Homo sapiens: one gene and its partner. The protein of the gene in region 1 interacts with the protein of each later gene in a pairwise test. Each region holds a gene or a part of one and is shown on either strand. Other genes may lie near its edges.

The links.
Region 2: the proteins of CAMK2D (region 1) and BANP interact in binary tests that used the Homo sapiens proteins (3 or more experiments, as listed by UniProt).

The regions. Positions count from the first base shown.
Region 1 is NC_000004.12:113,755,067-113,758,820, forward strand, and holds part of CAMK2D (calcium/calmodulin-dependent protein kinase type II subunit delta), read right to left. Parts: intron 25-3,754; coding exon of another isoform or gene 1-24. UniProt on the Homo sapiens protein: Calcium/calmodulin-dependent protein kinase involved in the regulation of Ca(2+) homeostatis and excitation-contraction coupling (ECC) in heart by targeting ion channels, transporters and accessory proteins involved in Ca(2+) influx into the myocyte, Ca(2+) release from the sarcoplasmic reticulum (SR), SR Ca(2+) uptake and Na(+) and K(+) channel transport.
Region 2 is NC_000016.10:88,031,282-88,035,035, reverse strand, and holds part of BANP (protein BANP), read right to left. Parts: intron 1,928-3,754; coding exon 1,791-1,927; intron 1-1,790. UniProt on the Homo sapiens protein: Controls V(D)J recombination during T-cell development by repressing T-cell receptor (TCR) beta enhancer function. Binds to scaffold/matrix attachment region beta (S/MARbeta), an ATC-rich DNA sequence located upstream of the TCR beta enhancer.

The DNA of each region.
Region 1 (3,754 bases):
AAATTACAGTACTTTCTTGACTGCCTGGAAGCCAAAAATAAAAGAAAAGTAGCAAGAATTAGTTTTTAACATCCCTTTTACAACATCAAAAAAGGTTACTTAGGGATACACACACACACACACACACACACACACACACACAAAACATTTAGATTTTATAGATGAGGCCTAATTTTGCATACATGGTCAAGTAGTTTTATAAAGTCCTGATTCATGTACTACTAATATCACCAATTTAGGAATTAATAAAACTAGTAAAATCAAAGAATATCAAAATGACTTAACTGATTAAGCCTGAAGTTTTACAGAAATATAAAATGAAATCCCTTTTAACTTTAGCAATGGAGTAGAGGTAAAATACAGTTGTAATAACTTATTTTTTAACCCTATACTATAATGTATTATATTTTACAAAAACAGTGACTGTGACACATCAGAATCTATGTAATAGTCAAATGGTTTCTAACGATCAAGAAATACACTGGGAGATGAATGTCAAGAAGCCATTACTTCCACATAAAATATTTTACCACCACGAGGCTTTGAAATGCAAAATAAATCACAGGTACTATTTCTAAATTATCTGCCATCAGAACCATCAGTCCACTGGATTCTGAACTGCAGTCACAGCTCTTCTTGGACTTTATATAATTTGACAACAGTGTACAGTTCTAAACATGTATAAATAAACAGAATATCAAAGCAGCAGAAAAAAATTGGCTTTTGTTAAGTACTAATCTAACTGTGCTTGGGATTAAAATGGCGTAATTTCTAATTCTCATGAAAATATAAGGCAAAAATTCTATTATCACTATTCAACATTTACTAAGCATGCCCTCAATGCCCATCTAACAAAAACTTTTTAGAAGATAGAAATTACATATAAAATATAAGATGCTTGAGATGCTTCCATACTACTTATTTTCAAAATAAGCCAAATTATATATGAGTGTACCCATCTACATGCTCAGTATAATGAATGTTCTATGCACGCACATGCTAACACAAAAGGTAAGAAATTCTTCAATTGACTCAGAGTTCCCCAAATATGGTATGTATGACTAACAGCTGAGAGGAAATACAACTGAAACTGTCTGCTGGAAATCCATTAAAATCTAGGCACAGAAAAATGCCTGGTTGATAGTATAGTTGGATGTGCAAATTTATGCAGGAATGTAGCCAAATCTTTGGCAATTCCCTCATGGTCTTAGATTTATTAACAATAGCCCTTTCTTTTTCAGCTGTAATGTTACATTTAAAGAACATTAGTGGAGTTGGAGGACCTGCCTGGTCTTTAAAACAAATAGACTAAAGGCTTGGGTATACAGAGTCATGGAATTTCAAATACAAACAAAAATTTGCACAAAAAAAGTATGCTCCACAAAAGCTTCCATATGCAACTCTCAAAAATCAGTACCTTAGAAAAAACAAGCATACTATTTTGCAATTCTTTCTACATTTGCCTTTGAACGTATTCATTATTTTAAAAATTTTTCTGCAAAAATGATTTGTATCATCTTCTCTGAAATGAGTGTTATTAAAAGACTTCATAGGTTAAGACATATCCTCTTAATATACTACTTCACGGATTTATTTTCAGTATTTGCTTGTTGTTAGGAGTAAATTAAGTACTTAACTCTTACAAGTCATTTAACAACCACATTTGATTCTTGTTACTCTGTACTGAGCCCCTTCTATGCTCTCAATTCTGTGGAATGTTGTATCAAAAAATGAAAGCATGGTATTTTCTTCTTCAAGAGTTTATAATTCAATATGAGTACAAGTTAAACAAACGTATTCATTCAAAGGCACAAATATTCTACAACCAGTTCTGATTAGTGTGACAATATAAAATAAAATTGTTGACCATTTTGAAGGAAAAGTTCTGTAATTTTTCAGGAGAACAATAATAAGAGGTAAAATTGACACAATACTTTGCAGTTTAAGAAATGATTCTCATTGAATTCCCTGAATCCTCAGAACACCCCATGAGACTCCATGAGTATGATTTCCCATTTTACTGATGAAGAACCTGATATCCAGAAAAGGAAAGAGACTAAACGAAATTTATGCCTAAGTAGTAGAGCAAAGATTCAAACGTAGTTCTCACAGCTAAATCAAGGCTGCCACTGGATTTATAAGTTCTTTCATAAAAGTAATCTAATTTGATCATTATGACAATTTTATTAGATAATAATAGCAGATAATATTCATTGACTGCATATAGTGGGGCAGGTGCTGTTCTATGCTATGTTAATTCATTCATTCCACACAAAACCCTATGAGGAAGGGTTCTGTTATTACTGCTATTTTACAGATGAAGAAACTGAGGCTCAGAGAAACTAGTTAATGTGCTCAAGATCACACAGCCAGTAGGTATGGGCAGCAGAAGTTAAACTCAAGAGCTTCTGGTTGCAGCGTTAATAATGTTCTTCACCACCAGCTCACTCTTAGGTACGTTAACCTACAACAGGTTAAGAAACTTGCCCAAAGTCACAAGGAAAAAAAATTGCAGAAAACGGGCAAGAAGAATGTCTCCTAACTCTTCACCCTAGTTCCTTTTTCTAAGTAGAATAATGAAAATCATTACATCCAGAAGCGGTAAAAAGCTTTGGGACATGTAGGTAGTTCTTTGAAGCAGAATATGAGCAAGTAAGGAAACACTGGTGGAGTAGCAAGGAGAAAAGATTCCATCAGGCCAAAGAAGGCTTCTTCTCCACAGATTGAAGGGAAAAGAGAGTAAAATGTATGTGACCAGGGATAAGTACATTTGTTATTCTGATTTAGGGAGGACAAATTCAGATGAGTGAAGAGGGATGGCTCTAATTAAGAAAGTTAGTAAAAGTGAAGCACTACACTGATTTGTTTTGAAAGAAACACCACCAAAAATCTTGGAATAGGTATTGTAATGCTTTCAAAAGAAATGATACCCCCACCACAGCCAAAAGTATCTAGCACACAGAAGAAAATAAGAGAAGCACTGAAAGATTCTAACTACACATTTTCATTTTTTTAAATTAAAATGTCACTTATAGTTTAGCAATTCCTTTTCATTGTTAAAACCTTTCTGTGGAGTAGAGACTAAGAGAACATAATTAACATAATATTCTTCTCATTAGTTTTCATACCATGATTCTATGGTGCTGGTTACTTTATAGATCTTTCTCAGAATCATGTCAAAATCAGATGAAGGAAATTAAAACAACAACCCATGTGAATGGATAAACTAAAATACCAACCTAAACCTAAAATGCATGTTAAAAGTAGAATTTGCAATAAATATGGAAAAACTAATCATGGCAGAGACCGAAAGCAATGATGCCAGGATTTTGGTAAGAAGCACTTTTGAAAAGACATATTAAATGAGGAAAACTAAACCTAATGGAATTTCTTCTCTCATTACTTAAAATAAACCAGGTCACTGAGATGAGCGTACACTATGGTATTTTGTTCATTTTCATTTCATTTTTATACCATAAATTCCCATGGAAATACCTCAGACACGTGCCCACAATAATTGGAATGCCTAACATTTCAGCGTAAGTACTTTTGCATGAGTTCTACTAAATAAAAAGAATGCAGTGAGAGCCCTCCAAGTTTTTTGGTTATGTCAACAGCTATTTTACGAGTATGAATTATCTCTGTACCTATAAACTACATGTGTAAAATACATTACATGAGTCTGTGTGAAGCCTTAATGCGAAGACCAAGGTCTGAGCTGCACACAGAAACATCAAAATAAAACTAAACTTCC
Region 2 (3,754 bases), on another chromosome or scaffold:
CCATATGTGCCACACAGCTTGGACATGCTGGACAAAGGAACGACTCACGTCCCGGGCTGGACAGAGCAGGACGACCAGACTTCATCATGCTACTACTCAGAAGAGTATGTAATCTGAAACTTACAAATTGTTTATTTCTGGAGTTTCTCATCTAATATTTTCAGATCACAGTTGACTATGGGTAATTAAAGCCTGGGAAAGTGGAAGCATGGGTAAGGGGGGGCTGCTGTGTAACACAGAACATTTTCCAGCACTTCACAAAGGAGCAATAGGTCCCAGGAAAGATATTTACATCTTTAAATGTTACTAAACAAGTAAATTTTAAAATGTGCATGACACACAGAAAAGAGGGGAAATAGAAAATCACAATGACACCTCTTTTCAAATGATACGTTCAGCTCTCTGGGGATACTGGGAGGCTACGCAGTGTGTGGCTGAAGCAGGGGAGCTGTTGGCGTGCCTACACTCACAACAGGGCAGGCAACGTTTTTCAAATCAAAGAAACACTCATATGACTATTTAGACAGTTTCAGTAAACACTAATAAATGTGATTCAAAAAAAATCAAAGAATCCACTGTTTATACATATGGGCAGACAAATAATTCCTATAAACCTGTAAATGAAACGAATACTCCTTATCTTATTTGAAATTCTCTCTTAGTCGAAATGGATCTTAAAATAAACTCCTGTAGAATGTTCTATGTAAGCCTTATGACAAAGTTATCTACTCTGGAACGCTTTCAAAGAACTTCTTACTAACAAGATGAGAGGAACTGCCGTTGTGAATGTCAAACAAATTAATAAGCTTATTAAATAAGATTCACTATTCATAACTGTCTCATCTCCTTTGGAAGAGGAAGGGTAACGCCCCCTCTAAAAGCCCCAGAATTTTCCGGAAGCCTTCCCTCTTCCAGACAGCATGCTGAAGCCACACTGAGATGAGAGCCACGCCCCACTCTCAATAGTGGAGGACCATGTTTCCAGGAGAAAGCCCTGGTGACACGGAGGCACACGATGACCTGTCTTCAGAGGGCCCAAGGGGGCTGGTGCCACTAAAAACATAGGCGAGGTCTAGTGGTGCATGTAAAATTTCTAGTCACTCAGCAAAGCTTCCAGAAAAGTCTTCCTTCCTTCTCAGCCACGCCCTACTCTCATGCCACAGAATCCAGGAGGTGTTTGTAGAGGGACTTCACCCGGGAGCAAGCCCCTAGGCGCATCAGGCTGACCACAGCTTGGGTCACAAAACCCCAATAGAGAACTCCGCACGGGCAAGGCAGGACATTGACTTGCTGCTGGGACAGTGCCCGCCCAACCTGGGTGTGCTGAGTAACTCCAAGGGACACGCTGCATGGGAACAATGACCTCAAGCTTTTGCCACTGATCCTAGAAGGAAATTACTCTTTCCCTCAGTAAGAGAGCGCCTGCACTTCTGAACTGAGAAATATTTCCGATGTTTCCCAGGAGCACGAGCTGGGGCAGGGACCACCGCACGGCCTGACCCTTGGAGCTGACTGCCCGCCTGCCTGCTGGCAGGACTGAGGTGAGCTGACTGAATGCCCCACCCCACCATGTGCTTCAATCCCTAGGCTCTGCAGCAGCCGCCCCCACCTGTGAAATGTTAAGAGCTCATGGCCACGATGACCTCTACTTTAAATGGGGACCTTGTGCCTCCTCCCAAGCTATCACTGTGCTCCCAAAACACAGCGGAACCGGTGGAAGCCGCCATGGCCCTGCCGTGGCCCACCCCGCAGCCCCCTTTCCCAAGGTGTGAGGTGGAGAGGGTACGTACTACTTGCACCTGTCCGTCTTCTCCGATCTGGTGGATCTGCACCTGCTGTGCGTTGGCCAGCGCGTAGTGCAGGGCCTGCGGCTGCGGCTGTGGCTGCGGGAGCTCGCTGGCAGGAGGTGGGGTGCTCATCATCGGCTCTGTGGGGGCAACAGGTGTGAACGGGGTGAACGAGAAGTTTCTTAGGCATTGCCTGGTGTGGCATGTGTGCACCCCCGTCCCCCACTGTCGACTCCCACAGCAGAGAAGAGGAAATGCTTCATTTTTCCTCGACTCACTGCATCTCCACTCTTCTGCAGAGATCACTACCAGTGAGTCTTAGGAACTGAGGCTTCCGACATGGAATGCAAAAGGGCCTGAGAGTGGCGTGATGCTGCTATGACAAAACCCCTTCTAGTCCCCAACTTATTTAAATGAATGAAGTTCTTAAAGTGGACATTAAAAGCTGTTTCAGGCTGGCAATATTTGTCCATGGGTAATTAAACTAATAGAGCAAAAGTCTCATCCGCACACTTAAAGATACATTTCCAACAAATTTTACTTGCTGTGTTTAATCAAAATGAGATACATTTGCTTTGATGTACTGTGTATTAATTTTCACTGTAATGATGTCTCAATCATAATTTTCTTAAACTCTCAGAATATTAAGAGCGCAGAAAAACTTTTTAATTTTCAATGTATACACGTAGTTTTGTTGCAGAGAATTATAATGACTAATTTTAAAAAGCTTTTAAGCATAAAAATGTAGTCCGGACACGGTGGCTCACACCTGTAATCCCAGCACTCTGTGAGGCCAAGGCAGGTAGATCACCTGAGGTCACGAGTTCAAGACCAGCCTGGCCAACATGGTGAAACCCCATCTCTACTAAAAATACAAAAATTAGACAGGCGTGGTGGTGGGGGTCTGTAATCCCAGGCACTCAGGAGGCTGAGGCAGGAGAATCACTTGAACCTGGGAGGCGGAGGTTGTAATGAGTCGAAATGGCACCACTACACTCCAGCCTGGGCAACAGAGCGAGACTCCATCTCGGGGGTACAGGGGAGGGAAGCAGTAAGATGAAATTCTGTGAGAGAAGTAGAATGTTGATATGAATGAAAGGAGAAAAATGAAAGACATAAAATTATTGATTATTAAAGAGAAGCGGGCCAGGCGCGGTGGCTCACGCCTGTAATCCCAGCACTTTGGGAGGCCAAGGCGGGCAAGATCACTTCAGGTCAGGAGTTCGAGACCAGCCTGACCAACATGGTGAACCCCGTCTCTACTAAAAATACAAAAATTAGCCAGGTGTGGTGGCACGCGTCTGTAGTCCCAACTACTTGGGAGGCTGAAGTAGGAGAACCACTTGAACCTGGGAGTAGGTGGTTACAGTGAGCTGAGATGGCACCATGGCACTCAGCTCCAGGCAACAGAGCGAGCGGGGGAAGGGACGGGGAGGGGCAAGAGAGGGGAGGGCAAGAGCGGGGGAGGGGAGAGAAAAGCTTTCCATGTATTTTTTACCAATAGCTAATGGTAGGTATTAAATTGCCATAGTACCTAGATTCCACTGAATACATTTTTTAAAGTAACAATAAAATGTTGGGTTTCTTTTTTTTTTTTTTTGAGAGAGAGTCTTGCTCTGTCACCCAGGCTGGAGTGTAGTGGTATGACCTTGGCTCACTGCAACTTCCGCCTCCCAAGTTCAAGCGATTCTCCTGCCTCAGCCTTCCAAGTAGCTGGGATTACAGGCACCCACCATCATGCTGGGCTAATTTTTTTTTGTATTTTTTTGTAGAGAAGGGATTTCACCAGGTTGGCCAGGCTGGTTTTGAACTCCTGACCTCAAATGATCCGCCTGCCTCAGCCTCCCAAAATGCTGGGATTATAGGTGTAAGCCACTGTGCCCAGTCACATTAACAGAATGTTGATACTTGCAATATGCTAGAAATTGCCTAGCTACACTAAATCAGAATCTGAAATTCATGAGATT